Linked DNA regions of Homo sapiens. The protein of the gene in region 1 interacts with the protein of each later gene in a pairwise test. Each region holds a gene or a part of one and is shown in the gene's direction. Other genes may lie near its edges.

Region 1 (15,191 bases):
TGGTGAGCTTTTACAGATGTAAAACCTGTGAAGCCATCACCACCATCAAGACGCAGCATGTGTCTGTCACCGGAAAGCACAGTTCTCTCACAAGACCAATCATTCAAACTGCCCTCTTACAGCCACACCCACCTCTCTCCCTGCCACGCCCACCCCACCATCCCCAACCGCTGGCAACCACTTACCTGTTCTCCATTTCCCTAATCCTGTCACTTCAAAAACGTTACATAAGTGGCTTATGCCTGTAATCCCAGCACTTTGGGAGGCCGAGGCAGGTGGATCACGAAGTTAGAAGATCAAGACCATCCTGGCTAACATGGTGAAACCCCGTCTCTACTAAATATACAAAAAATTAGCTGGGCGTGGTGGCGGGCGCTTCTAGTCCCAGCTACTCGGGAGGCTGAGGCAGGAGAATGGCGTGAACCCGGGAGGCAGGGCTTGCAGTGAGCCGAGATTGTGCCACCGCACTCCAGCCTGGGCAACAGAGCAAGACTCCGTCTCAAAAAAAAAAAAAAAAAAAAGTTACATAAATGTAATCACAGTATACAATCCTTTTGGGATTGACTTTCTTCACTCCGTTTGATTCCACACTGTTGCCTAGAATCAGGTCTGTTTCTCCATGGCGGGGTGGCATTCCATTTGTTTAATGGTGGCATATACTCACTGTGGAATGTCCAAGGACATGTAGTTTGTTGCTAGTTTGGGGAATATTACCAATAAAACTGCCACGAACAAACATTAGAGTAGACGTTTCGGTAAGAACACAAGTTTTCATTTTTCTAGGATAAGTGCCCAAGAGTGCAATTGTGGAGTCATATGGTCATTGCATGGCAATTCCATGGTTCATTTTTATAAGGAACTGACAGTCTTTTCCCAAGCAGGCTGTATCATTTTACATGCCCACCAGCGATGTATGAGTGATCCAGTTCCTCCTCGTCCTCCCCAGCACTGGGTGTGGTCATTATTTTCTGTTTTAGCCATTCAGATAGGTGTGTAGTACTATCTCAGTGTGGCCTTAATTTGCATTTCTCTAATGGCTGATGCTGTTGAACAGCTTTTCATGGGCTTATTTGCCATCTGTATATGTTCTTCAGTGAAATGTCTGTTCATTTGTTTTGCCCATTTTCTAATTGGTTTGTTTTTGGCTTTATCGTTGAATTTATATATTCTAGATATGTGGATATTTGTTAGATACGTGCTTTGCAGACATTTTCTTTCAGTCTGTAGCTTGTCTATAATTTCCTCACATGGGCTTTCACAGAGAAAAAGGTTTTTAGACATCTCATTTGTCAGTATTTCCTTTTATGGATTATACTTTTGGTGTCAAGTCTGAGAATTCTTTGCCTTGCTCTAGATTTCCAACTTTCTCCTGTTTTTTTTAAGTTATAATTTTATATTTTATAGTTAAGTCCATGATCCAATTTGTGTTAATTTTTACTCAAAGTGTGAGATTTAGGTTGAGGTTCTTCTTTGTTTTTTCTTGCCTACAAGTGTCCACTTGCGCCAGCACCATTTGTTGAAAAGCCTCTCCTTCCTCCCGTGACTTGCCTTTGCACCTCAGTTGGCTATAGATTGTGTGGATCTATTTCTGGGTTCTCTGTTCTGCTGCATTGATCTATGGGCCCATCCTACCAGTACCGCGCTGTCTTGATGACTGATGCTGTGTAGTAAGCCTCAGTATTGGATTGAATGATTCTTCCTAATTTATTCTTCTTTGCCAGGAATATTTCAGCTATTCTATGGCCTGTGCCTTGCCATGTAAATTTTATTTATTTATTTACCTATTGCTTACTTACTAACTTACTCACTCTTATAGTACCCAGACTGGTCTGAGCTATATCAATTTTAGAATTAGTTTTTGTATGTCTACAAAATACCTTGCTCGGATTTTGATAGGAATTACATTAAACCTATAGATGAACTGGGGAGAAATAACATCATATGACTCAACGTATGTTGAGTCTTCATGAACATGGTACATCTCTCCAAGTATTTAGGCCTTCTTTGACTTCTTTCATCAACATTTTGTGATTTTTTTTCAGCATACAGATCCTGCCTGTGTCATGTTAAGTGTACACCTCAGTATTTCATCTTCTTTCAAGCAGTTGTAAATGGTATTGCATACATAGCATGCATTCATGTGTTAGCTATCTAATTATAGATGTGTATGTCCCATACTAAGAGAATTAGGCTGGGCTCAGTGTCATACACCTGTAATCCCAACACTTTGGGAGGCCGAGGTTAGAGGATCACTTGAGGCCAGGAGTTTGAGACCAGCCTGGCCAACAGAGTAAGACCCTGTCTCTAAGAAACTAAAAATATAAAATAGAAAATAGAAAATGAATTTGGCCGGGCACGATGGCTCACGCCTGTAATCCCAGCACTTTGGGAGGCCGAGGCGGGTAGATCACCTGAGGTCAGGAATTCGAGACCAGCCTGACCAACATGGAGAAACCCCATCCCTACTAAAAATACAAAATTAGCTGGCCGTGGTGGTGCATGCCTGTAATCCCAGCTACTCGGGAGGCTGAGGCAGGAGAATCGCTTGAACCCAGGAGGCGGAGGTTGCGGTGAGCCGAGATCGTGCCATTGCACTCTAGCCTGGGGAACAAGAGTGAAACTCCATCTCAAAAAAAAGAAAATGGATTTGACTTTATAAAATAGATAGAGTGGTGTTAGCCTTTATATTGTAGGATAATTTTACCATTTCTAAAAAGAACTTCAGCGTGGGTGACTCTAAGGATATTGAAAATGACTAAAGTTTTCCCTCACACATTTTTCAGCTGTGAGGTAACATGTACACTGGGGATGTGCACCTTTTGACCTGGCCCCCTGCTGCTGGATGCACATGGTCCAGAACACAATTTCCCCGAGGTGGGTGGCTATGAAAACACAGGATAAGAAAGGCAGATGGTGTTCCCTAGCATCTGGTGGGAAGTGATGAAGCCCTCGGGCCCTCAGTACCTGTGTGTGGCGAGATTGCTGCATCTCCGCTGCTGCTGTTTTTGCCATTTTTCTCCTCCCTGTGTTTTCCCACTTTAATTACACAGTAAAATACTGTGGAACTCAATTGGGTGAAGTCTTAGGTTCCCTGTACTTCTAAAACCTCTTATTCTCTTTTTGTGATTTCTCAAAAAGACACACCACTAAACTGCTTCATGTCTGTGATTAAATGAAAATCCACTCCCCCCATCCTCTTCTAGCCCAGTGATTTATTTTATTTTATTTTATTTTATTTTAATTTTTAGAGATGGGGTTTCACTCTGTCACCCAGGCTGGAGTGCAGTGGCACAATCATAGCTCACTTACAGCTTGGGACTCCTGGGCTCAAGTGATCCTCCTGCCCCAGCCTCCCAAAGTCCTGGAATTACAGGCATGAGCCACCACACCAGGCCTCCAGTGGTGTTTAATGTATTACTTCTTTTTTTTCTTTTTTGAGACGGAGTCTCCCTCTGTCGCCCAGGCTGGAGTACAGTGGTGCAATATTGGCTCACTGCAACCTCTGCCTCTCGGGTTCAAGACATTCTTCTGCCTCAGCCTCCCGAGTAGCTGGGACTACAGGTGCATGCCGCCACACCTGGCTAATTTTTGTATTTTTAGTAGAGACAGGGTTTTGCCATATTGGCCATGCTGGTCTCAAACTCCTGACCTCAAGTGATCCGCTTGCCTCAGCCTCCCAAAGTGCTGGGATTATAGGCATGAGCCACTGCGCTTGGCCTAAACTTTTTTTTTTTTTTTTTTTTTAGAGACGGTCTTGGTCTGTCACCAAGGCCAGAGTGCAGTGTTGCAATCATAGCTCACTGAAGCCTCAAACTCTTGGGCCCAAGGGATCCTTTTGCCTCAGCCTCCCAAATGGTTGGAACTACAGGCACGTACCACCATGCTGGGCTATTTTATTTTATTTATTTATTTATTTTTTGAGACAGGGTCTTGCTCTGTCGCCAGGCTGGAGTGCAGTGGCGCCATCTCGGCTCACTGCAACCTCTGCCTCCTGGGTTCAAGCAATTCTCCTACCTCAGCTTCCTGAGTAGCTGGGACTACAGGCATGCGCCACCATGCCCAGCTAATTTTTGTATTTTTAGTAGAGACGGAGTTTCACCATGTTGGCCAGGATGGTCTCGATCTCTTGACCTCATGATCCACCTGCCTCGGCCTCCCGAAAGTGCTGGCATTACAGGCGTAAGCTACCTTGCTGGCCTATTTTTTTTATTTTTGTAGAGACAGGGTCTTGGCTGTGTTGTCCAGGCTGGTTTCGAACTCCTGGGCCCAAGCGATCCTCCTGCCTCAGCCTCCCAAAGTGCTGAGATTATAGGCGTGAGCCACCACACCCGGTCTCCAGTGGTGTTTTAGAATTTGTTTTTAAATCTTTTATTGAAATATAATTATATACATTATAATTTATATAATTTATATTTACATAAAGCATATGTATTTAAAGTATACAATTTGGCAAGTTTTACAGATATATAAACCTGTGAAACCATCACCACCATCAAGATACACAACGTTTCCCTCACTTGCAAGAGTTTCCTGTGAGATTTTGCCTTCCCCCCCACTATGACCCCCCCATTCCCCCATCGCCTCTCCCAGGCAACCCGTGACCTGCTTTTCATCATCATGGATTAGTTAACACTTTCGAGAATCTTTTGTAAGTGGAATTCTAACGCATGTCCCTTTTCATGTCTGCCTTCTTTGACTCAGGATATTTTTGAGACCCATGTTGGATCAGGAGTTCATTGCTGGATAGTAGTTGATTGGGTGGACACACCAGAATTTGTTGTTTCATTCACCTGTTAATGGACATCTGAGTAGTTTTCCTGCTTCTGGATTTGTAAATAAAGCCATTGTGAACATTTGTGTACAGGCCTTTGTGTGGATATATACGTTGGTGGGTAAACACCTAGGAGTTACAGGCCTTTGTGTGGATATATACGTTGTTGGGTAAACACCTAGGAGTATAATTGCTGGATTATATAGTAAGGATATGTTTAACCTTAAAAGAAACTGCCAGTTTTCCAAAGTGGTTGGAGTAGTTTCTGTTCCCTCCAGCAGGGTTTGAGCATTCCAGTTGCTCCACATCCCTGCCAACATTTGGTATTTTGACTTTTTTTTTTTTTTTTGGAGATGGAGTCTCGCTCTGTTGCCCAGCCTAGCCAACGTGGCAAAACCCTGTCTCTACTACAAATACAAAAATCAGCCAGGTGTGGTGGCACACGCCTGTAATCCCAGCTACTTGGGAGGCTGAGGCAGGAGAATTCGCTTGAACCGGAGAGGCAGAGATTGCAGTGAGCCAGGCTGGATGGAGTGCAGTGGTGTGATCTTGGCTCACTGCAACCTTCGCCTCCTGGGTTTGAGCGATTCTACAGCCCAATGCATGCCTGTAATGTAGCTGGGATTACAGGCAGGTGCCGCCACACCTGGGTAATTTTTGTATTTTTGGTAGAGACGGGGTTTCACCATGTTGGCCAGGATGGTCTAGAACTCCTGACCTCAGGTGATCTGCCCACCTCGGACTCTCAAAGTGTTGGGATTACAGGCATGAGCCACTGTGCCCAGCCTTGAGTTTTTAACTTTAGCCATTCTGATAAATATGCAGGGTATTTCATTTAGTGTGTGTATGTATGTGCACATGTGTGTTTTCCAGCTTCTTTTTTATTTTTGAGATATAATTTACATATAATAAAATTCAGCCTTTAATTTAGCATACAGTTTTTTTTTTTAAAGAGGTAACATTTTTAATCATCAAAAAGTAAAATTATTCTCACCTAAACCCAAGAATCACTGTTTCTTATAGCGGTGGTTTAAACAGAGGTGCAAACAGCAAGTGAATCTCGTCGCCTTTGCGGGGCTGTGGCCATGCCCCTCAAAGGAAATTTGGAGGCTCTACAGCCCTGGTGAAAAAAAAAAAAGTGAAATTAGCCAGGTACAGTGGCATACATCTGCAGTCTCAGCACTTTGGGAGGCTGAGGTGGGAGGACCACATGAACCTGGGAGTTCAAGACCAGCCTGGGCCAGCTGGTGAGACCCCATCTCTACAAAAAAAAAAAAAAAAAAAAATTAGCTGGGCACAATGGCTTGCACCTGTGGACCTAGCTACTTGGGAGGCTGAGGCGGGAGGATCACTTGAGCCTAGGAGGTCGAGGCTGTAGTGAGCCATGATGGTGGTGCCACTGCACTCCAGCCTGGGCAACAGAGTGAGACCCTGTCTCAAAAAAAAAAAAAGGAAGTTGTTTTTTGGCATGCCACATACTTCTAAACAAATTGGAATCCATCCTGGATCCCGCCATGATCCCGCATTGTGTGTGGGAGCTGTGGGGGGCACATGGTGCCAATCACTCCAGCCCAGTTTCTTCAATACTGATGACGTTTGTGTTTCCATCTTCTGCGCTTCCCAGAGGCTGGCGAAGGTTCCTGCCAGTGGGCTTGGTGTGAACGTGACCAGCCAGGACGGCTCCTCCCCGCTGCATGTCGCCGCCCTGCACGGCCGGGCGGACCTCATCCCCCTCCTGCTGAAGCACGGGGCCAACGCAGGTGCCAGGAACGCAGACCAAGCCGTCCCGCTCCACCTGGCCTGCCAGCAGGGCCACTTTCAGGTTCGGGCTGTGTGTTGGGGGTGGTGGAGCAGGGTGTCTGCTTTGGGCTAGGACCTTGTGCTTGGTAGGAACGCTGCAGGGGTTTGGTGGCTACCCTGGAGGACACTGCTCCCCCGAGCCCTGAGATTCTGAGGTGCACACGGTAGGCCACTCAGCCTCGGAGCACAGAGCCTTGATGCTCCCTGGGGGTGGAGCCAGTCCCTGCCCCACTGCCACTCCCATCTGGGTGATACCGAGGTTGTCATTCTGATTCTTGCCCCCAGCAGGATCTGGCTCTTGAGCTCGTGTGGTGGCCACCGAGCACTGTCCCCATGGTCATCTTACCACCTTTACACCCCGACAGTGCCTTGCTCTGGGCCAAACAGTTCAGCACTTCATAAAGAACAGTCAGGGCCCCATAGAGGGGCTCAAGGAAGAATTTTGAATTTTGGAGTGATTAACTTTTTGAAAGTGCTGGGGTTTTTTGCCTTTTTTTTTTTTTTTTTTTTTTAAGACATCACCTTGCTCTGTCTCCCAGGCTGGAGCGTGGGAGTGCAGTGGTGCAATCTCAGCTCACACTGCAGCCTCAATCTCCTGGGCTCAAACAATCCTCCCATCTCAGCCTCCCTCCCTAGTAGCTGGGACCACAGGCGTGCACCACCACACCTAGATAAATTTTTCTTTTTTTTTTTTTTTTTTTTTTTTTTTTTTTTTTTGTGGAGATGGGGTTTCACCATGTTGTCCAGACTGGTGTTGAACTCCTGAGCTCAAGCGATCCTCCCACCTTGGCTTCCCAAAGTACTGGGATTACAGGGATGAGCCACAGCACCAGGCCCTGCTTTTCTTTAAGGAAAACTGTGTGTATATTTTTTCATTTTCCTTTATCAGTTCTACTGTTAACTTTTTAAAGAAAGGAGCCATATTTCAGGTCTTGCATCTCTCTCGCCAACACCTAGCATAGAGCTTCAGGCATGGCTTTCCTAATCTGTAAATTCGGAGTGGCGATTGCAGCTCTCCCTGAGGTAGAAAGGATAGAAAGGTGAAGTGAGATCACTGTCGCCCAGCACATCGGGTGAAGTGAGATCACTGTCACCCTGCGCTTCAACCGCACAGAGCAGCCCCGCAGCAGATGGTAGCCCTCCCCTCTTCACCTGGTCCCTTTTCTCCTGAGAGTCTAAAGTCTTCTCAATAAGCTCAGAGACGGCTGGGCGTGGTGGCTCATGCCTGTAATCCCAGCATTTTGGGAGGCCGAGACGGGTGGATCACCTGAGGTCAAGAGTTCGAGGCCAGCCCTGCCAACATGGTGAAACCCCGTCTCTACTGAAAATACAGAAAATTAGCCAAGCGTGGTGGCAGGCGCCTGTAGTCCCAGCTGCTCAGGAGGCTGAGGCGTGAGAATCAGTTGAACCTGGGAGGCGGAGGCTGGAGTAAGCCAAGATCACGCCACTGCACTCCAGCCTGGGCGACAGAGCGAGACTCTGTCTGGAAAAAAAAAAAAAAAAAAGAAAGAAAAACCAAAAAGAACAACAACAAAAAAATAAGCTCAGAGACAAGTCAAAAGAATATCAAACTTGAGCATTTCTCTCCAGAAACTTTGTTTTCTTATTTTATTTATTTATTTATTTATTTTTCATAATTTTTCTCTGGCAGGAAATGACAGAAATTTTGATTAAGTTTGCACGTTTTCCTTCTCTGGCCCAGGTGGTGAAGTGTCTGTTAGATTCGAATGCAAAACCCAATAAGAAGGACCTCAGTGGAAACACGCCCCTCATTTACGCCTGCTCCGGTGGCCATCACGAGCTTGTGGCACTGCTGCTACAGGTGAGGGCCCCTTCCTGTCCTCATTCTACACACCTGCGCCAGTTAACAGGGCGCCTCCACCCAGCGACCCCCGCAGCGCACTGGGGATGGAGAGGCCCGGCCACCCATCAACCCCAGGCCTCTGGGGAGAGGAGCAGGGCGTGCGTCTTCCCACACGGGGTTCTCCGATGGGAACAGATGGTGCCCCAGCATCTGGGATGCGGTCTCAAGGGCTCCGACGCTGCTTTTGCCAAGGGTTTGGGTCTCACCTCACCGACCGGGAATGTGTCACGCTGTTACCTGAGCATGGGCTGAGTGGCCGCCTCTGTCCCTGCTGCTCTTGAAAAAGGTTATGTGAATGCATTAGAATTTCTTAAAGAAGTAGGGAAAAACCAACCTGTCCATGACTGTGCTACTCAAGGGAAACTCATTATGGTGGACTTTTGACAAATGTGTATAGTTTCAGTGTTATTTATTAATTTTTTTTTGAGACAAGGTCTTGCTCTGTGGCCCAGGCTGGAATGCAATGGCACCCTCACAGCTCACTGCAGCCTCAGTCTCCCAGGCTCAGGTGCCTCAGCCTCCCAGCTAACTGGGACTACAGATACATACCACTGCACCTGGCTAGTTTTTGCTGTTTGTTTTTAGTAGAGATGGGGGTCTCACTATGTTGCCCAGGCTGGTCTCAAACTCCTGAGCTCCAACGATCCTCTTGCACTGGCCTCCTAAAGTGCTGGATTACGGGTGTAAGCCACGGGGCCTCGCCAAGTATTGTTTTCTCTTTTTCCGAGATGGAGTCTCGCTCTGTCACCTAGGAATGCAGTGGCTTACTCTCAGCTCACTGCAACCTCTGCCTCCGGGGTTCAAGCGATTCTCCTGCCTCAGCCTCCCGAATAGCTGGAACTACAGGCGCCCACCACCATGCCCAGCTAATTTTTTTGTTTTTTGGTGTTTTTTTTTAGTAGAGATGGGATTTCACTATGTTGGCCAGGCTGGTCTTGAACTCCTGACCTCAGGTGATCCACCTGCCTCTGCCTCCCAAAGTGCTGGGATTATAGGCATGGGCCACTGTGCCTGGCCCCAAGTATTGTTTTCTGTCTTAATGTTATTTAATGTAGAAACTTATTTACTCAAACTTTGATTTTTAATGGTTGCATAACTATGGATATACCATAGTGATTTTTTTGAACCTGTTTCTGCTCTGTACATTTAAGTGGCTTCTGTTTTCTCTGCTATTAGGATAAATGCTGCAGCGAACTCTTTGTCTATAAATCTTTTTTTCTCAGTATTACTTTTCCTCCCCAAATTTTAAGGAAACTTTCAGACATAAAAAAAACAATGTGTTTTATAGCGAATACCTGTATACCCACAGCCAGATTCCATGCTGACGTTTCGTAGCGTTCCTTTTGATCGTGTGGTTTCTCTTTCCAGCACGGGGCCTCCATTAACGCTTCTAACAATAAGGGCAACACAGCGCTGCACGAGGCTGTGATTGAAAAGCACGTCTTCGTGGTAGAGCTGCTTCTGCTCCACGGAGCGTCAGTTCAGGTGCTGAACAAGCGGCAGCGCACGGCTGTAGACTGTGCTGAACAGGTAGGTGGAGAGGGTCGAAGAGCCGAGGGAATCCTGAGCTCCTCACAGCTCCCTCTGGATCCCTTTGTTTAAGCTGGATCTAAAATAGCAACACCTGGCCCTTGGCATCGCCGGGCTGGGCGTAGTTGGTGTGCCAGAAGTCCACAGCGTGGGTAGATGGCTGGTCCTCAGTCTCCTGGTCAGAGGTGGTGCTCTGGGAACCAGGAATCATTCTTTTCACAGGTGGTTTTCAAAGGCCTGAGTGGAGGGGCCCCCCCCTCAGCTAGCAGTAGGGCTGTGGTCCGGTAGTTACATAGAGTCAGGCACTCAGGAAGGAGCAAGTCATGATGTTCTGGTGTCACCATCCTCACAGTGTGAACACAGCCGTTGTCTTAGCAGCACGATGGAGAAGGTTTGTTTTGTTGGTGGATTTAAAACTCCTTGAGGCCAGGCACAGTGGCTCATGCCTGTAATCCCAGCACTTTGGGAGGCCAAGGAAGGAGGATCACTTGAGCGCAGGAGCTCATGACCAGCCTGGGCAACATAGTGAGACCCCCTCTCTACAAAAAATCAAAAAATCAGCCGAGCATAGGGGTGCATGCCTGTAGTCCCAGCTACTCAGGAGGCTGAGGTGGGAGGATCGCTTGAGCCCAGGAGGTCAAGGCTGTAGTGAGCTGAGATTGTGCCACTGCACTCCAGCCTGGGTGACAGAGACTTTATCTCAAAAAAATGAAAGTAAAAGTCCTTGAGTCCTGTAGGAATCGTGATTATTGGCCTACTGCCTTCTCCAGTGCTGTGGATGCTTGCGTGGAGAGCGGCGGGGAAGGGTCCTTTTCCCCTGGCGAGCGGCAGCTCTTTCTGTTCCTGTTTTCCTGCTGAGTCTTTCTTTTGTTTTCTACCCAAGATAGACAGCGAGTAGGCTGTTAAGTGACACAACTGAGAAGCTAACATCACCATCAATCCACTCCATGGACAGGCTCCTTAGAGTAATTTTTTGTTTCTTAAGACAGAGTCTTGCTCTGTTGTGGCGTGATCTTGGCTCACTGCAACCTCTGCCTCCTGGGTTCAAGCGATTCTCGTGCCTCAGCCTCCTGAGTAGCTGGGATTACAGGCACGTGGCACCACACCTGGCTAAATTTTTGTATTTTTTGTAGAGACGGGTTTCACCATATTGCTCAGGCTGGTCTTGAACACCTGACCTAACTGATCCGCCTCCCTTGGCATCCCGAAGTGCTGGGATTACAGACGTGAGCCACTGTGCCTGGCCTCCTTATATTAATTTTCAGTGACAGAATTGAAATATTTTAAACTCTCAGTTTAGTACTTTCTTAAATGATTATGTTGAATTTTTTTTGGTTTTTAAAATTTTTAATTTTATTATTATTATTATTTTTTGAGACAGAGTCTCAATTTGTTGCCCAGGCTGGAGTATAATGGTGCAATCTTGGCTCACTGCAGCCTTAACCTTTGGGCGCAGATGATCCTCCAACCTCAGCCTCCCAAGTAGCTGGGACTATAGGCGTGTGCCACCATGACCAGCTAATTTTTTTTTAATAGAGACAGGGTTTTGCCATGTTGGCCAGGCTGGTCTCGACTGCCTGGGCTCAAGCAATCCACCCGCCTCGGCCTCTCAAAAGTGCTGAGATTACAGGCGTGAGCCATCGCGCCTGGCCTTTTATTATTTTTAAATAGAGACAGGGCCTTGCTATGTTGCCCAGGCTAGTCTTGAACACCTGGGCTCAAGCAATCCTCCCACCTCAGTCTCCCAAAGTGGTGGGATTGCACGCGTGAGCCACCGTGCCCAGTTAATTAATGTGTTTCAATGAGTACTTACTATATGGGGGCCCTCAACAGCCTCATGATAAGCATATGATAGTAGATCTTATTATGGTTGAGCTGGTTGCATGGAGTGGTTGAATCCCCAGCGTGGAGTCCACAGAGAGGGCAGAGCTTTTACCCAGTGGTAAAAGCAGAGCCGGGCTCCCCATGCAGGCCTGCTTTTACCACTGGGCTTTATGGCCTCCAAGCTCCATTTGTAATTATTTCTGAGCTTTTTCTGCCCAGTCACACTAATACTGACATTTAGATCAAAAACAAATAATAACCTATTAAAAAAGAATAAAAACATTACTGTTCCTTTTCCCTTTCAAATTGCAGAATTCAAAAATAATGGAATTGCTTCAGGTGGTACCAAGCTGTGTTGCTTCATTAGATGATGTGGCTGAAACTGACCGCAAGGAGTATGTCACTGTTAAGATCAGGAAAAAATGTAAGAGTTTACGTTCTTTCTGTCACGCTCAAGTTGGGTATATTTAGACATTCATGAGTAGTTGCTGGTGTTCATTTAATTGTATATGTAAAGTGTAATTATAATCATGCCTGGAGGAGATACAGGCACCAAAGAAATGTATGTTACCTCCCAATTTATCAGACTATGGGTAAGCTTTTTTTGTTACTAGTTTTCTGGTTGATGGTAATGATGTTTCCTGAGGAAATAGGATAGAAACTGTCAACACTACCTTGAAGGTTCAGGTGTCTGCCTATGGAGATGGGGAACAGTCTCTGGGATAGTTTCTTTCATGCCTCATGTTCCAAAGTCAGGTGTTCTGGGCATTTCCTGGACATCCAGGGTAAATGCTACCTTTCAAGATTTTTTTTTTTTTTTTTTTTTTGAGACAGAGTCTCGCTCTGTCACCCAGGCTGGAGTGCAGTAGTGTGATCTCAGCTCACTGCCAGCTCTGCCTCCTGGGTTCACGCCATTCTCCTGCCTCAAGTAGCTGCCTCCCACTCTCAAGTAGCTGGGACTACAGGTGCCAGCCACCACGCCCAGCTAATTTTGTTTTTGTATTTTTAGTAGAGAGGGGCTTCACCGTGTTAGCCAGGATGGTCTCCATCTCCTGACCTCGTGATCTGCCCGCCTTGGCCTCCCAAAGTGCTGAGATTACAGGTGTGAGCCACCAAGATTTTTTATTTAGTTAGTTTTTTTGAGACAGAGTCTCACTCTGTCACCCAGGCTGGAGCGCAGTGGTGCAATCTCAGCTCACGCAACCTCTGCCTCCTGGGTTCAAGTTATTCCCCTTCCTCAGCCTCCCGAGTAGCTAGGATTACAGGCACGTGCCACCATGCCTGGCTAATTTTTGTATTTTTAGTAGAGACAGGGTTTCACAATGTTGGCCAGGCTGGTCTCAAACTCCTGACCTCAAGTGATCCGCCCTCCTTGGCCTCCCAAAGTGCTGGAGTTACAGGTGTGAGCCACCGCGCCTGGCCTCAAGATTTTTTTTTAAGTTTGTACGTGTACGGAGGTTGATTATAATTAAAACAGCAGTTGCCGAACAGCAGTGAGACTGAAGTATTTTCTTCTTTTTAAAAAGTTTAGAAGGGGTCCTTGTTCTACTTTTTTTTTTAATTTACAATATGAAATATTATCCAGTGAGGTATGCAATAATGCAATACAATAATATGGATAAACCCATTCACATATCTCGATAACCCTGAGACTGTCTCACCGTAATTGGTTGTGGCTGGGGGAGTTAAGGGAGTTAAGGTTTTATTTTTCTATTTCATGGGGGTTCTCATAATACAGGCTGACTACCCCCTATCTCAAATGCTTGGGACCAGCAGTGTTTTGGGTTTTGGAATATTTGCATTATACTCATTGGTTGAGGATCCAAATCAGGAAATCAGATTCTTCTGAGCATGAAGTCAAAGAGTTCAAAATGTCTCGGATTTTGTAGCTTTTTTTTGAGATGGAGTCTTGCTCTGTCGCCCAGGCTGGAGTGTGGTGGTGCAATCTCGGCTCACTGCAACCTCTGCCTCCTGGGTTCAAGCGAGTCTCCTGCCTCAGCCTCTTGAGTAGCTGGGATTATAGGTGCGTGCCACCACGCCTGGCTAAGTTTTTGTATTTTGGGTAGAGATGGGGTTTCTCCATGTTGCCCAGGCTGGTCTTGAACTCCTGACCTCAAGTGATATGCCCACCTCGGCCTCCCAAACTGCTGGGATTACAGGCATGAGCCACTGCACCCAGCCTGTGGCATTTTAGGCTTTAGATTTTTGGATTGGAGATACTCAACCTGTTATAAATAGGTACTAGCTGTGTTTCTTTAAGCAAATTCAGTGCTTCAGTTTCTAAATTTTGTAAATCTGAGAATAGAAAGATTGTGTCTGTGCTGTAATTTTAAAATAATCTTTACAACTGTTTTTGAAGTTTTTAGATGTTTATCTTTTTATCTACAGGGAACTCAAAACTGTATGATCTACCAGATGAGCCTTTTACAAGACAGTTTTACTTTGTCCACTCAGCTGGTCAGTTTAAGTGAGTATGAAACTCAAGTTGATTTCTGTGCTTTTGCCCCTAGTTTACTCCAAGCTGCACGTAAGCTGCTTCAATTGTAATTGGTTATGGACAAATCTGCACCTACTAATGTCAAAAATGCTGCCACCTTGTGGCCAACCAGAGTGTTTCATGCCACTGTCCCAAATATTTATTTTCGTTTATTTTGGGTTTTAGGGGAAAGACTTCAAGGGAGATTATGGCAAGAGATAGAAGTGTCCCTAATTTAACCGAAGGTTCTTTGCATGAGGTAAGTTATTAAACACTGGCTTTTAATCATATTTTCTAAAGCCCGGCTTTGTCAAAAGTAATCCATGGTAAACACGTCTCCTTGATCGTCATCTTCATTATTCCGTGCGCCGTATGAGTTAGCAGCAGTTAAAACTGGAATTATTTCATGGGACAGTGTAGAGTACAGACTTCACTGATTGTTATAACTAAAAGTACATTTCTGAGCAGAGGAGTGGAAAGTGTTACATGTGTGGGAAACCACAGGTCTTGGTGCTTATAGGAGATGAAACATCCCACATTTCACTATGGTTTTAATCACCAAAGAAAGAAAACGACAGTTTGTATATAGATGGGTAAATGATGTCTCCAAGTATGGTGTACAGTTGCTCAGACAATTCTTTATGTGGCCATCTTCCCACTACATTTTTTTATTTATTTATTTGAGACAGAGTCTTGCTCTGTGGCCCAGGCTGGAGTGCAGTGGCACGATCTCGGCTCACTGCAGTCTCCACCTCCCGGGTTCAAGCATTCTCCCGCCTCAGCCTCCTGAGTAGCTGGGATTACAGGCATGTGCCACTATTCCTGGCTAATTTTTTTGTATTTTTAGTAGAGACGCAGTTTCACCACGTTGGCCAGGCTGGTCTTGAACTCCTGACCTCAAGTGATCTGCCCGCTTTGGCCTCCCA
Region 2 (15,669 bases), on another chromosome or scaffold:
CCACCTCTCAGGGTTTCTGGGAGGCGAACGTGGGTGAACCTCGGATGCCCTGAGATGGTCACTACCCGTCGGCCCCAGGCCGGATGCTTCTGGATCCTCCCTTGCCCCCAGCCCCGCTGTCCCCGTGGCCATCCTCTCCACTGCATGCTGGGCTACGGCAGACACCCCGGCCCGGTGGACACAGCAGTCACAGCTGCCCAGGAGATGCCGGCGGGAGCCACCAGGACGGAGCCCAACCTTGGGAACACGCCTTGCAGTGTGGGGACAGGATGAGGCTCTCGGGAGAGAGGCTGCCACATGGAAATCAAATTTCTGTCAACCAGTGCTCTTCAACTGTTGGGAAGGGCAGCACCCCCCACTTTGACAATTCTGGGAGCATTTCTGATTGTTGTAGGAGGTGGCAGTGTTGCTGGCATCTAACGTACGGGGGCCAGGACACTGCCCAACACCCCACAGTGCTCAGGTGCACCCCAACCAAGAACCCTCGGCCCCACGCATCCACGGGCTGGGTTGGAGACACCCTCGCTTAGTGCTGAGGGCCATCCAAGGGCCCCTGGACCAGAGGCCGAGGGACAGCCGCACCCACCTCCCTGCCCAGGCTCTAATGGGGTGGGCTCCACATTCCACAACTTGCTTCCACCCTCGGTGGTGCCCAGGTCCCCCCCCCACCATGGGCCCTATTGTGGACCAAATGTTTGTGTGCCCCCAGATTAATCTACTGGAACTGTACCTGCAAAGTGATAGTCTTTTATGGACCAAATGTTTGTGTGCCCCCAGATTAATCCACTGGAACTCTACCTGCAAAGTGATAGTCTTTGAAGATGGGGACTTTGGGCTCCCGTCTTTGGACTCTGCAGCTGCAGACCAGTCCTGCATCCTCACTGTCCCCGATCCACACCTGCAGGGCCAGATGGCCCATGGCAACGAGAATGACGGAGCCACTTCTTCCAGGGTTCCACCGACTCAAGACCAGCTCAGACCCATCCCCATGCACAGCGCGCCCTGCCTGGCTCCGAGGGGTGGGAGGTGGTTCATTAAGAGGCTGCACGGTGGTGAGCACGAGACGGGAGTGAAGAGGTTTGGGTCGGGGATTTGGGTTGTCCTGAGGACAGACCACCCACCTGCCTGAGCCCCCCATTTCCTATGAGTGCAGGACTCATTCCTATGAGTGTAGGAATGCTGAGGGGCATGTCGGGATGACAGGCAGGGTCGGGGGAGTGTCCCAGGAAAGGCCCGAGGCTGCACATCTCAGCCCTCACTGACCCAGCACGTCCGGCCTCAGCTGTGTCTGGAAACGCGCCGGATGCCTGCAGAGAGCCCACACTCCCCTGGGCATGGTCGTGGTCTCAAGTTGTTAGAACGTCACCCTCACATAAATGGGAGGTGAACGCACGTTAGGTTCACCCGGGTCATGAGTGGGGGGCCCGGAAAGACTCAGGAGCTGGCTGGAGACGTTCCTGAAAGCCCCGATTCTGCAGCCGGTGGAAGCAGCAGTGACACAGAATTGCTAAGTCAGACGCCAGGCTGCTGGGTCCACAGGACCAAAACCGCTGGGCCAGGCAGGGTCACGTTTTCCGTTTTCTACAAGTTCACTACAAACCTTCCAGGGCTGCACAGTCAGTGTGGAGGAGAAGTCAAAGTTCACTCCCCGGGGAGGTGTGGCAGCATTGCCCTGTGGTCAGCCCCGCCCTGGAGGCGACAGGTGTGTCCACTGATGGTTCTGATGGGACCAGGGCAGAGGGGCTTCCTGCCGGAGCTGTCGACCCCCGGGTGGAGTCCTGAAGGACCCAGGGGCGCTGACCCAGTGAGAAGGGCCACGCACGTGCAAAACGGGGGCCTGGTTTTTTCAGGTGCTGGAGTGGCATGGAGTATTCCAGAAACACATCGTCTGGTGTCCTCAGCAAAACAGCTGAGAAGAGCAGACGTGGGCTGTGCCCTCACATGGGGCAGGAGCAGAACACAACAGGGCCATGAGCTCAGCGGTGCCAGGAGGCGCAGCCAGTGTGAGTAGGGCACGTGGGCTCCGCCGGACTGCAGTAGAGGTGGGGGTGTGAAGAGGTCAGGTGAGGGTTGGGTAGGGGTCAGGTGGGGGTCGGATAAGAGTGGAGGATTGGGTGAGAGTCAGGTTGGAGGTGCAGGTCGGGTGGGGTCAGGTGAGGGGTGAGGATAGAGTGAGAGGTGGGGGTCAGGTTTGAGGTGGGGGTGTGAAGAGGTCAGGTGAGGGTTGGGTGGGGGTCGAGTGGGGGTTGGGTGAGAGGTGGGGGTCGAGTGAGAGGTGGGAGTTGGGTGGGGGTTGGGTGAGAGGTATGGTGAGAGGTGGGGGTTGAGCGGGGGTCAGGTTTGAGGTGAGGGTCAGGTGGGGGTCAGGTTTGAGGTGGGGTTTGGGGGGAGTCAGGTGAGACAATAAGGTGGGGCCTGAGGGGTCTCAAGGGTGGATGGAGAAGCGCCCCAAGCACTCATCCTGGGTCTCTTATGTCCCAGCCACGGCCAGCAGCCATCCCCGAACCCTCCCTGCTGTGCCCAAAGGGCAGAGCCAGTGCCCGGGGCCCTCACCCGCTGGGAAGACCAGAGACCACAGGGCTGGAAGGCGGACGCAGGCTTCCCCTATGAGCACTCGGAAGGCACGTGCTGTCTCCCGTCGGGGGTGGGCGCTGGTGCAGCCATGTTTGGAGAGATCCCCTCCCACTTAGTTCTCAAAGTGGGGTTCCTGGAGCTGTAGCATCACCACCATCTGTAACCACGTTGCAAATGCAGATTCCTGGGCCCCCAGTGCTGAATGGGAGCCTCTGGGTGTGGCCGCTGTGCCCTGCTCCAGCGTGGGAACCACTGGCGGGGGGCTCTGCTTCTGAAGGGAAGAGGGGACTGTGTGAGGGGCAGCGGTGCAGGGGTCCCGTAGTGCAGGGGAGAGCAGAGAGGGGCCTGGCGACGGCCTCTGCCTCGCCCACCAGCCTCATCCAGCTGTGACCTTGTTGCCTCTGCCCCCGCTGGCCCTCCCGGCTGGAAGCTGCGTCATCTGCTGGGGTTTCAGTTCCGTGCGCTCAGAGGACGCACTAAGATGCAGAGATGCGGGGCCCCAAGCATGATGAGACCCCCAATGTAGTTGATTCACCCGGAGGTGGGCACTGATCCCCACTGGGGAATTCCCTTATATGGGAATTTGGGGATCAGACCTGAGAGTGAGTGAGGCCGTTCTCTCTCCAAGGGGTGAAACCTGGGGGCCATGTTTTCTCCTGTGAGGAGGGAGCCCCTCTGCAGCGACAGGAAGACCAGCGGGCACCGTGGGAGGAACAAAGGCGGCAGGTGGGCCGGCCTCGCCGGCACTGGGTCCCTGGCTCAGCTACTTCCAGGCCGGCCACACCTGGCCCTTCCCACAGCACAGCCGGTCAGCCCTTCCCAGCTCACAGGAGACACTCCCAACCATCCTTCCATAAAATCGACATCGTGCTTAGGCTGGTTCAAGTTGCATTTCCACTGTTTGCACATCACAGACGGAACTATTTTAAAAATGAAAAACATGTTAGCCTTCAAGCTAAATTTGGAAGAAGAAAAAAGAAAAATGCCCCCTCCCTGTGCCCCCTCCGTGGGAAAATGCTGAAATAGATATTATGTGAATTACTGAGGCTGGTTTAACTTCCAGCAACAGAAAATCCATCTGGAGGTGGCACCAGGGAGCTGCTCTGTATCACAGGACAGGAGGCTCGTGGGTGGGCCCACAGTGCCCAGACGCTGAGAGGAGACTTGGAGTCTGCGTTCCTGTTTGCGAACCCCCAGCAGACGCCCTCACATCTCACTGCTGGAGTCTCCTCGTGGGCCACACCTACATGGTCACAGGCAGGAGTTGGCAGGAGCACAGGCATGGCTCAGAGCAGCAGTTTTCACAGTGGGGCCCATGGGCCCCCACAGGTCTCTGAGACCCTTTCATGGTCCTATTGGATTAGAGCCCACCCTACGGACCTCCTCCTAACCTGATTACATCTGCAAAGACCAAAGTATTTCCAACTAAGGTCACAGTCACAGCTTCCAGAGGGTGTGATTTCAATAAATCTTTTTAGGGACTCCATTCAACCCAGACAACCAAAACTTCATACGTGGTGAACCTTTGTCTCCTGTTTTCTCACGACTGCAGACAAGCCTAAACAAGATGACTTTTTTTTTTTTGAGACGGAGTCTCGCTCTCTCACCCCAGCTGGAGTGCAGTGGCACGATCTTGGCTCACTGCAAGCTCCGCCTCCCTGTTTCACGCCATTCTTCTGACTCCCAAATAGCTGGGACTACAGGCGCCTGCCACCACGCCCGGCTAATTTTTTTGTATTTTTAGTAGAGACGGGGTTTCACCGTGTTAGCCAGGATAGTCTCGATCTCCTGAACTCGTGATCCACCCGCCTTGGCCTCCCAAAGTGCTGGGATTACAGGCTTGAGCCACCGCGCCCGGCCTTTTTTTTTTTTTTTTTAAGATAGCATCTCACTCTGTTGCCCAGGCCGGAGTCCAGTGGTGTGACAGCGGCTCACTACAACCTCTGCCTCCTGGGTTCAAGCAATTCTCCTGCCTCAGCCTCCTGAGTAGCTGGGACTACAGGCTAGCGCCACCGTGCTCAGCTAATTTTTGTATTTTTAGTAGAGATGGGGTTTTGCTACGTTAACCAGGCTGGTCTCGAACTCCTGACCTCAAGTGATCCACCCACCTTGGCTTCCCAAAGTGCTGGGATTACAAGCATGAGCCACCACGCCCGGCCTCACCTCCACCTTCTGATGACATTTTACTCGTGGAGAAGCATCAGTAAATGTTCCTTTCATTCCTTCTGCCCACAGAGGCCTAGTCTCCAGAGCAGCCCCAGATCATGGGTGGGTGGATGTTCAAGGAGATTTCAGCGTGGCCACAGGGAGGAATGTTCCGATGATCCGAGATGGACAGGTCTGGAAGCCTGGCTCTGAGTTGGGCAGAAGGTAGGCTAGTGCTGTCCAGACACCTCCACCCTCTGCCTGGACTTTACACATGTACTGAAACTGGGGAGGAGGAAGAGGTATCCCACCACAGGACTGTCCCTCAGGAAACTGGGGGCCCTGGTGGGAGGAAACCTGCTTTGGCTGTAGAAATAAACACCTCTGTTTGGTGAAAGCAATGTTTGGGGCAAGAAGATGGACACCATATCTGAACACAGCCCTCTTCTGACGTGGTTATTTTACCTGGCCCTCCAGGTGGGAGTGGCCATGTTCCAGCTCAGCCAAGGCCAGCTTGGAGGTGACAACTAGGAGGTGGTGAGGACCTTCTGTGGGGCAGGAGAAGAGCAGACAAGGGCTCCCCCATCACCTGTCCTCTGTAGGAAGTGGTCTGGCCACCCCTCTCCATGCCCCACCGTGAACACTGCTGGACTGCTGGGTGTGACCCCGAGGGTGGGCTGGGGGCCTCCTGACCCCTATTGTACAGTGAGTCTGGATGTGTAGGTGGGGAGCGAGCAAAAGAAGGTACCCTTTCCTCACTAGGTAATAGCCATGTGACCCACAGCTGATTGGAACATGGAGACTGAGGGTTAGGGATGGGAAGGAAACTCCCCTGAATTCTTTTTGGCAGAGTGGTGGGGCTGGGGACTAAATGCCATCTTTCTCATAGTTTTCTAGCGTCCACCTTCCATCCTCTTTTCTTCCTCTGACCTTCCTTCTAAAAAAAAACAGTGCTGCAATCCCAGCATTTTGGGAGGCCGAGGTCGATCACTTGAGGTCAGGAGTCAAAGACCAGCCTGGCCAACATGGCAAAATCCCATCTCTACTAAAAATGCAAAAATTAGCTGGGTGTGGTGGCACATGCCTGTAATCCTAGCTACTTGGGAGGCTTGAATCCAGGAGGTGGAAGTTGCAGTGAGCCAAGATTACATCACTGCACTCCAGCCTGGGCAACAGAGCAAGACTCTGTCTCAAAAAAAAAAAAATGTGGCTGCATTAGTAACTAAAGCAACTAATCAACCAATGAATAACAGGTGTTGCAAACTAAATTGGCATTCCAAAGTAAACATTTTCTAGGTCCAAATGAATGCAAATGACAAATATAATAATCTTGACTTCAGTCTCTTTTGTAATTCTTCTTCCGCTCCCTCTTCTGTTCCTCCCCCACAAAAAACTTCTAATGGGGTCTAGAGCAGTTCCCTACACAACGCAGGGTGGAGGGGATGAAGTAGTGGGGGCATTATCCTTCTTCTTGGACGGAGCTCGCCCTTTGCCTGCTGCCTGAATTCTGCACCAAATAAACCAATGTGCACCTGGTGAGACCCTCAGAGCGAAGGGCAGACCTCGGCCTGGCAACCCTTGCTCTCTAGAGCAGAGGAGAAGCCAAAAGGCTGGAGGGTCCCACCCAATGCTCTCCTCCAGCACGCACGCAAACACATGCATGGATGCACAAACAAGCGCACGCACACATAGGAGCGCATGCATAGAAGCAGCACACGCAGACACACACATGCAAAGATGCCTGCAAAGGCACACATGCACACGCACATACATGTGCAGACACCTGCAGAGGCACACATGCACACGCAGACACACAGATGTGCAGACATCTGCAGAGGGACACATGCACACGCACATACATGTGCAGACACCTGCAGAGGGACACATGCACACGCAGACACATAGATGTGCAGACACCTGCAGAGGGACACATGCACACGCAGACACATACATGTGCAGATATCTGCAGAGGCACACATGCACACGCAGACATGCACACACACGAACACATGCACACGTACACAGGCGCATGTGCACACACAGGCATTCAGGCACGCCGCGTAAATGGGGCAACGACGAGGCCCTGGATGAACCGTGGGGAGAGACCGCGAGCCTGGATTCTACGGCGACAGGGACTCCTCCGGCGAGGCGGCCTGCGGGGGCCTTCCGGCCGCGTCCGCCAACTGGACCGACCCCGAGCCCCACCCGGCCAGGCACCCGAGGTCTCCCTGGTGGGCAGGTGGGGAGGCCCCACGCTGGGACCCTGCACCGCCCCTCGCCCCTCCCGACTCGGGGCGTGCAGACCCGACGACCGTGGGAGCGAGTTCGTGGCGCTCACGGGCGCACGCGAGAGTGTAAACACCCGGCCCCACCCCCTGATCGCCCCCACCCCGCCCCGCCATTGGCTGCGGGAGCAGAGTCCCCGCCTCCTGCTTGTTCTGGCTCCGCCCCTGCCCCGTCTCCGGGCCTCCATTGGCTGTGGTGACAGCGACCTTTCAGGAGGGGCGGGTGGGCGACAGCCCGGAGGCGGTGACGAGAGTAAGATGGACGGACAACCAAGCCAGTGAAAGCGCGCAGCTGCCCTAGCAACTGCGGTCCACCAATGGCGGGGCCGGGCGGGGATGCGCGCTGTCAGCGCTGGGCGGCGGGGCGGGGCCGGAGGCGAGCAAGGACTCGGGGCCCGCGCGGCGCCTCTCGGGGCCGGGCCGCCGCCTCTGCGCTCAGCCCCGCAGGCCGGGCATGGGTGGGGGCGCCGGGCCGTCACGATGAGCGCCCTGGGCAGCCCGGTCCGGGCCTACGACTTTCTGCTCAAGTTCCTGCTGGTGGGCGACAGCGACGTGGGCAAGGGCGAGATCCTGGCGAGCCTGCAGGATGGCGCGGCCGAGTCCCCGTACGGCCACCCGGCGGGTGAGCGCGGGCGGAGGGCGTGCCGGGGTGCGGGCGCGGGGCCGGGGAGGGGCGCGGGGCTGGGGAGGGGGTGCGGGTGGGGGTCCGGGTCCGGGGACGCGAGACCGGGCAGGGGTCGGGAAGAGGCCGGGGCGCGTGGCCGGGGAGGGTAGGAGTCCCGGTCCGGGGGCGCGGGGCTGAGGAGGAGCGCGGTTCGCGGGCGGGCCTTTCTCCGCCCGGCCCTGGCCCTCGTGCTGCGGCGTCCCTGTTGCACCCCCAGTTCCACTCGAGGCCCCGCGGCGCAGTCTCCATCCTTCTCCGCAGTCTGCGCGCAGCGGGAGCCCGCGGCTGGGCCGGGCGCTGGGCTCCTCCCGACCTGGGGCCGCTGCTGTGGGGACCCGGGGCGGGGGCTCGAGTCCGCAAGTGCGCGTTCGGCCGCGGGGCAGGAGGGGCGGGAGGGGACGCGAGCTCCGGGGCTCCTGGGGCGGAGCGCGGCGAGCAGGCGCCCAGGTGCTGGGTCTGCGCGTGGGTCGGAGGGGAGGGGAGACCAGGGTCCGGTCCCGAGGCCAGGGGTCCCGCGTGTCCGGGGGAGAGGAAGGAGCACAGGTGACTCGCGTGCGGAAGAGGGGACCCCCCACGACAGCGGCCGGAGAGCGGGTTCCAGGGCGAGGGGAGGCCGGAGCGCCCAGAGCTCCCAGGCAGGCAGCCCGGGGATCCCCCAAGTTTGAGGCTTGAAAGCCGGCGCCCGGCGAGGGGGTGGACGGCTCCGGGGAAAGAAAGGCGGGGGCAGGAACCCAGGAGAAGGGGGAACGCGCAGAGGCGAACACCTCGGCTGGGAGTGAGGAGCAGGCGGGGCCTTCACCCACGCGCATCCCTGGAACAGCTTGGACGAGGCCGACCCTGAGGCTGTGGAAGGAGCCCAGCCTGTGCCCACCTTCCTGCCGCGCCTCGGGGCTGAACCCACGCTTCCAACAGAGACCCGCTCTGAGTCCTGGGCGGAGGAGGGCAGCCGGGCGTGGAGATGGAGTCTTGGTGGGAAGGACCTGTCAGCTCTGGGGCCTGGGAAGGGTCTGGGAAGCCCCAGGTCCAGGGTCCTGCCAGAGACGAACTTAGCGGGAGAGGGTGGGAGGAAGCGGGATCTGAGGCTGCTCGGTAGAGGGTGCAGGCTGTCCCCTAAGGGCAGCTCCAGGCAGGCGGCGTGAGCACCAAGGGAGTGTGGCACGGCTGGAGGGGGTGGCCTGAGACTGTGGAGCGTGGGGTGGGACTCAGGTGCCCGGCCACACCTCAGCTTAGGGGACGGGGTGAGGAATGGGCAGAGTTTGGGGGAGCAGCTGAGATGGGCTTGGGCTCACGACCAGCACCCAGAGGCCTCCTGAAACTGCAGCATGCGGGGGAGTCTCTGGCAGCTGGTGGGTGCAGAGTGTGCTCCGTGGGGCAGGAGGGGAGCCTGCGTCTCTACCTGTCCCCAGGCGCCGCTGCCCCCGCATGTCCTACCCCCCTCCCCGCTCGGTGGCAGGTCTCTAGGACCGTGGTGTCCAGTAGGATGCCATGAGCCACGTGTGGCTGTGGAAGTGTAATTAGAAGGAAAGAAAACAAAAAGCTTCCATTCGTCACATTTCTAGATAGTTCGGATGTCGCTGTGGCAAAGTCCGAGGGCCAGCGCTGCCCTGGAGATTGAGCGCCTGGAGGACAGGGCTGGAGATTGAGCGCCTGGAGGACAGGGCTGGAGATTGAGCGCCTGGAGGACAGGGCTGGAGATTGAGCGCCTGGAGGACAGGGCTGGAGATTGAGCGCCTGGAGGACAGGGCTGGAGATTGAGCGCCTGGAGGACAGGGCTGGAGATTGAGCGCCTGGAGGACAGGGCTGGAGATTGAGCGCCTGGAGGACAGGGCTGGAGATTGAGCGCCTGGAGGACAGGGCTTTGTCTGCACTGTGCCCTCGGGGTCTGGGCTCAGTGAGGGATGAACCCTACCAGAGCTACAGGAATAAAGCACCCAACAACGTGTACGCCCAGACGAATATGGCGCTTTAAGAGCTGTGCGTGTTTTGGGGGAGCAGACGGTTGACAGTGTTGAGTTTGATTGAAGGTGAGTGCCGTGGGGCGTGTGTGAGAAGGGTCACGCACAGAATGTTTGTGAAACTTCCTTCTGGTTGGTTTGAATGGAGGCTCGGGGATGCTTCTGCTGCGTGACTTTTGGTTGCTACATGCCGAACTGAGGACGAACCAAAACAATGGTCCAATGCTTTGTAATAAAGGCTTTCCCTTGACACGGAGGGAGGATTTAGGCTAAAAATACACCTCCCACCGGGCCGGGGGCGGTGGCTCACACCTGTAATCCCGGCTTTGGGAGGCCAAGGCGGGCGGATCACCTGAGGTCAGGGGTTCGAGACCAGCCTGATCAACATGGAGAAACCCTGTCTCTACTATAAATACAAAAATTAGCCGAGCATGGTGTCACATGTCTGTAATCCCAGCTACTCGGGAGGCTGAGGCAGGAGAATTGCTTGAACCCGGGAGGCGGAGGTTGCAGAGATCGCACCATTGTACTCCAGCCTGGGCAACAAGAGCGAAATTCTGTCTTAAAAAAAAAATCCCATCAAGAGCTTTATTGTCTACTTGGCCTGAGCTGCTGTAGAAAAAACTGATATCACGGGTGTACCCTTGCAGGTTTTTGATTTACCAAATATTTGTTTTAGAGTTAAGAAAAGATATTCTGAAAAATAGTAAGAAGTTGAGATCATTATGTTTTGTTTTTTATTTTTTCAGAGACAGGGTCTTCTCTGCCGCCCAGGCTGGAGTGCAGTGGTGTGATTGCAGATCACTGCAGCCTTGACCCTCCTGGGTTCAAGCCATCCTCCTTTTTTGGCCTCCTCAAATGCTGAGATTATAGGCCTGAGCCACAGCACCTGGCCATGTTTTTTTTTTTTTTTAATGACATGTTTCGCTGAGAAACACTATAGGTGCTTGTTATTGAAAGGTGAGGGCAGCCGGGCGCAGTGGCTCACAGCTGTAATCCCAGCACTTGGGGAGGCCAAGGTGGGCGGGTCATGAGGTCAGGAGTTTGAGACCAGCCTGGTCAACATGGTGAAACCCTATCTCTACTAAAAATACAAAAATTAGCTGGGCGTGGTGCCGCGTGCCTGTAATCCCAGCTACTTGGGAGGCTGAGGCAGGAGAATCGCTGGAACCCAGGAGGTGGAGGGTGAAGTGAGCTGAGATCACACCATTGCACTCCAGCCCAGCGACAGAGTGAGATTTTGTCTCGAAAAAAAAAAAAGAAAGAAAGAAAGAAAGAAAGATGAGGGCGTTCGTAACTCCACACTCCATTTCCCTCCACCCAATTCCTCCTGAGTTTTGTAGCCCAGGCTGTTATTTTTATATTGTCCAGGTTTATAGCCCTTGCTTCTGTATTGTGGCTGTAGTGCCCGCAATGATTTAGTATCAATTCAACATTTAAATACAGTCAGTGCTCACCAAAGTCCTTTTACCATTTATGTCTCTGTTCATTGTGCTGTCCCTCTTAATCACCTAGATTTCATTATCAGTCGTTTTTTCAGAAGGACTCGAGTATTTCCTGAGTGTTTTTTTGTGTCTGAGAATGTCTGCCCATGGTCTTTATCTTTGAACAATGTAGAGATATCTTGGCTGGGTATAATACTCTTAGATTTATTTTCTTCCCCAACACTTTGCAGCTGTCATTCCACCATCCCCTGGCTCACATGTGCTGTGGGGAAGCCTGAGGTCAGCTGATTTTTCCCCATGTGGAGGCTTGTCCTTCCCTTCATGAATTTCTGAGGAATTCTTTCTTTTTGTCTCATAGTTCTTCTGCTTAACCAGACCATGTCTCAGAGTTGAATGTTTGTGTTAAACTTTTAGTATGAACGTACTCTTTGAGTTTCCAGGTGTGTGTGTGTATGTGTGTGTGTATGTATTTTTTTTTTCTTAGATGTAGTCTCAATCTGTTGCCCAGGTTGGAGTGCAGTGGTGTGATCTCACCTCACTGCAACCTCCACCTCCCAGGTTCAAGTGATTCGCCTGCTTCAACCTCCCAGGTAGCTGGGATTACAGGTGCCTGCCACCACACTGGGCCAATTTGTTTTTGTATTTTTAGTAGAGACGGGGTTTCCATGTTGGCCAGGGTGGTCTCGAACCCCTAACCTCAGGTGATCTGCTTAGCTCAGCCTCCCAAAGTGCTGGGATTACAGGTGTGAGCCACAGTGCGCGGCCTGAATTTTTCTGATTATCTTATGCCTTTCCTATTTGTTGGTAATTTTGATTTCAGTAAACTGTTCTAGCTGTTTCTAACTTATTGATTAGTTCAGTAAAGATGTTATTTTTGTCTCCTAATTTTCTCTTAGTTTTGGAGTTTTCCTTTTTTTTTTTTTTTTTTTTGAGATGGAGTCTCGCTCTGTTGCCCAGGCTGGAGTGCAGTGGCACGATCTCAGCTCACTGCAACCTCTGCCTCCCAGGTTCAAGCGATTTTCCTGTCTCAGCCTCCTGAGTAGCTGGGACTACAGGTGTGCGCCACCACGCCTGGCTAATTTTTGTATTTTTAGTAGAGACGGGGTTTCACTTTGTTAGCCAGGATGGTCTGGAACTCCGGGCCTAAGGTGATCTGCCCGCCTCGGCCTCCCAAAGTGCTGGAATTACAGGCGTGAGCCACTGCGCCTGGCCAATGTGCACTTCTGTGACTGTGTCTCTGGCCCCCGTTATGTGAAAGAGACTCTCCCATGTTGTGTGAGGCTGTGGGGTGTTAATTCTCATGGTGGTGACATCCCTTTTGTGACTCTACCGTGATTTATTCTCCATCCTGCGGGTGACGGGCATTTGGGTGGTTTCAGGTTTCTGACTATTATGGTTTGTTCTGCCATGAACATTCCTAGTACACATCCTTTGCATTTCTGTTGAAAGGTCCCTATGCGTGTGAATCGCTGGGTATCAGGCACGCAAATGTCTGCACAGGTTTCCCTGTAGTAGATTCTCGCAAAGCATTTTTCACTTGGTGCTCCCACCAGCAAAGCTGGAGGCCCCGGCTGCATCATCTTCCCTCTCAGCACGGGGCTGTCTCTGTCCTTCTGTGGTGTGTAGTTTGCCTTTGCATTTCTCTGATGACTGAGCACCTTTTCATACGTCTATGCGAAATTCCTCTTTGGAAAAATGCCCAAGTCGGCCGGGCCTGGTGGCTCACGTCTGCAATCCCAGCACTTTCAGAGGCCGAGGCGGATGGATCACCAGAGGTCAAGAGTTCGAGACCAGCCTGGCTAACTTGGTGAAACCCCATCTCTACTAAAAATACAAAAAAAAATTAGCCAGGTGTGGTGGCGGGCACCTGTATTCCCAGCTACTCGGGAGACTGAGGCAGGAGAAGCACTTGAACCCGGGAGGCGGAGGTTGCAGTGAGCTGAGATCGCACCACTGCACACCAGCCTGGGCAACAGAGTGGGACTCTGTCTCCAAAAAAAAAGAAAAAAAATAGAAACAGAAAGAAGAAAAATGCCCAAGTCTTATGTCTGTTTTTTCATTTAGGTTGAATTTCTTTCAATGCTTGCTAGGAGTGTTTAAAATATAGATTCTGGCTGTGAGTCCTTTGTCGGCTGTGTGATCCTGGATAGCCACTCTCATCTGCACGTCACCTTTCCACTCCTTCAGTGGTATTTTTGGATGAACAGAAGCTCTTAATTTTAACATAATCCAAATTATCAGTGTTTTGTGGTTAGGACTTTGGGTCCTGTTGAACAAACCTTTGCTGCTCCCAGATTTAAAAAAAAAATGTTCTCTACAAGCATCGTTTTACCTTTGACATGAATGGCTGCCTCCAGCTGGGGTGAGGCCTGAGGCAGGGATCGAGACACACTTTTTTCAGTCGGATGCCCCCCACCCCCACCCCGCATCGCACGGCCACCGTTGTCCCAGCTGAGAGCCCGCCTGTGGGTCTGGGTCTGCACCGTTGGCCCGCCTGTCTCTTGTGTGTGTGCCCCGGGTCAGACTCTGTCTTCTGTGGATGGGCATGCCCTGTGCTGGCCAGGGCAGTCAGATGCATCTTGTCCTTGCTCAGGCAGCTGTGCCCAGGTGTTCCCTTTGCTCCGATACGGTCAGCGAGGCCTGGATTCTCCCTCCTGGGCGTTTGTCTTCCTCTCGGTCTGTAGTTGCAGGGCAGAGTTCTTGGATCTTGGACCCTGTCGGCAACTTGACTCCACAGACTATGTGGACCCCACTGCTCTGCCTGTCACCTCAGCCCACGGACCGTGCGGGCCCCACTGCTCTGCCTGTCACCTCAGCCCACGGACCGTGCGGGCCCCACTGCTCTGCCTGTCACCTCAGCCCACGGACCGTGCGGGCCCCACTGCTCTGCCTGTCACCTCAGCCCACGGACCGTGCGGGCCCCACTGCTCTGCCTGTCACCTCAGCCCACGGACCGTGCGGGCCCCACTGCTCTGCCTGTCACCTCAGCCCACGGACCGTGCGGGCCCCACTGCTCTGCTGGTTACCCAGGGAAGTGTCTTCTGTTCTGCAACACACCTCACACACGCTGGTACCCCTGGTTCCTGGTGGCCTGGACCCCATTTCCGTCTGGCAGCTGGGTCCCCGGTTCACGCTCTTTCCCCTCGGAAGTTCCATTTCTCTCCAGGCAGGGGTAGAAGGAAGGCGTCACCAGGCTGGCCCAGGATATGGTCGGGGCACAGCAGGGCCCTGCCTTTCCGCCACCCCAGCTGGTGCTTCCAACACCAGATTGTGTCCCTTCTCTGAGTGCTGAGTTTTCTGCCTTTTGCCCATTTTTTTGTTGTTGTTTTTTGAGATGGAGTCTCGCTCTGTCGCCCAGGCTGGAGTGCAATGGTGCCACATCGGCTCACTGCAACCTCTGCCTCCTGGGTTCAAGTGATTCTCCTGCCTCAGCCCCCCGAGTAGCTGGGATTACAGGTGTACCATGCCCGGCTAATTTTTGTATTTTTAGTAGAGATGGGGGTTTCACCATGTTGGTCAGGCTGGTCTCGAACTCCTGACCTCAGGCAATCCGCCTGCCTGGGCCTCCCGAGTAGCTGGGATTACAGGCGTGAGCCACCGCGCCCGGCCTTTTGCACATGTTTATTGGTGACAGGGAGGGGGGTGGATTAACTACACCAGATGCCACCACCTCTTGCCTCCCACCCTTTTCCCCAGCATGAGGGCCTCATTGTCTTCTCCAATCCTTTCTCCTGGCTGTTTCTTCAGTGTCCTTTTCCCAGCATAAAAGTCCCATTGTTCTTTCTTTGTTTCATTTTTGCTAAGAGCTAATAATAATAACCCTCACTTACTGAGAGGGGGAATCATCTTGAGAGAGGTTATATTGTGAGGCCCAGAGAGGCTGAGCCACTCCCTCAAGACTACACGGTGCGTGGACACACCGGGGTGCAGGTGCAGGGCCTGGCCCTCCCCTCTGTTTCCAATGTTTAATGTTGGGAGAAGGCTCCACTGAGGGAGCTTTTCTTCCCGGAGACGAGCATCAGAGCCTCCGTTATGGAAAGTGACACAGTTGCTGGGGTTTGCTCCTTCCTCTTTGCCTTGGACAGATGTTCCCCTGGGACATGCGTGCCCACTCCATGCTCCCCCGGGGCAAACGTGCACACTCCGTCTCTCTCCAATTCTGCAGATCTTCCCCTGGACACACGTGCACACTCTCTGTTCCCCAGGAACACACATGCACACTTCATCTCCCTCCAATTCTGCAGATCTTCCCCTGGACACACGTGCACACTCTCTGTTCCCCAGGAACACACATGCACACTCCATCTCCCTCCAATTCTGCAGATCTTCCCCTGCACACACGTGCACACTCTCTGCTCCCCGGGAACACATGTGCACACTCCATGCTCCCTCCAATTCTGCAGATCTTCCCCTGGACACACGTGCACACTCTCTGCTCCCCGGCAACACACGTGCACACTCCATGCTCCCTCCAATTCTGCAGATCTTCTCCTGGACACACGTGCACACTCTCTGCTCCCCGGCAACACACGTGCACACTCCATGCTCCCTCCAATTCTGCAGATCTTCTCCTGGACACACGTGCACACTCTCTGCTCCCT

What was found.
Region 2: the proteins of ANKRD27 (region 1) and RAB40B interact in a two-hybrid assay, tested with the Homo sapiens proteins (one study listed by BioGRID).

What each region holds. Positions count from the first base shown.
Region 1 is NC_000019.10:32,599,037-32,614,227, reverse strand, and holds part of ANKRD27 (ankyrin repeat domain-containing protein 27), read left to right. Parts: intron 1-5,758; exon of another isoform or gene 5,759-5,891; intron 5,892-6,395; coding exon 6,396-6,593; intron 6,594-8,273; coding exon 8,274-8,393; intron 8,394-9,803; coding exon 9,804-9,965; intron 9,966-12,101; coding exon 12,102-12,213; intron 12,214-14,177; coding exon 14,178-14,256; intron 14,257-14,451; coding exon 14,452-14,524; intron 14,525-15,191. UniProt on the Homo sapiens protein: May be a guanine exchange factor (GEF) for Rab21, Rab32 and Rab38 and regulate endosome dynamics.
Region 2 is NC_000017.11:82,690,412-82,706,080, reverse strand, and holds the start of RAB40B (ras-related protein Rab-40B), read left to right. Parts: upstream 1-7,382; 5' UTR 7,383-7,484; coding exon 7,485-7,626; intron 7,627-9,227; exon of another isoform or gene 9,228-9,692; intron 9,693-15,669. UniProt on the Homo sapiens protein: RAB40B small GTPase acts as substrate-recognition components of the ECS(RAB40B) E3 ubiquitin ligase complex which mediates the ubiquitination of target proteins.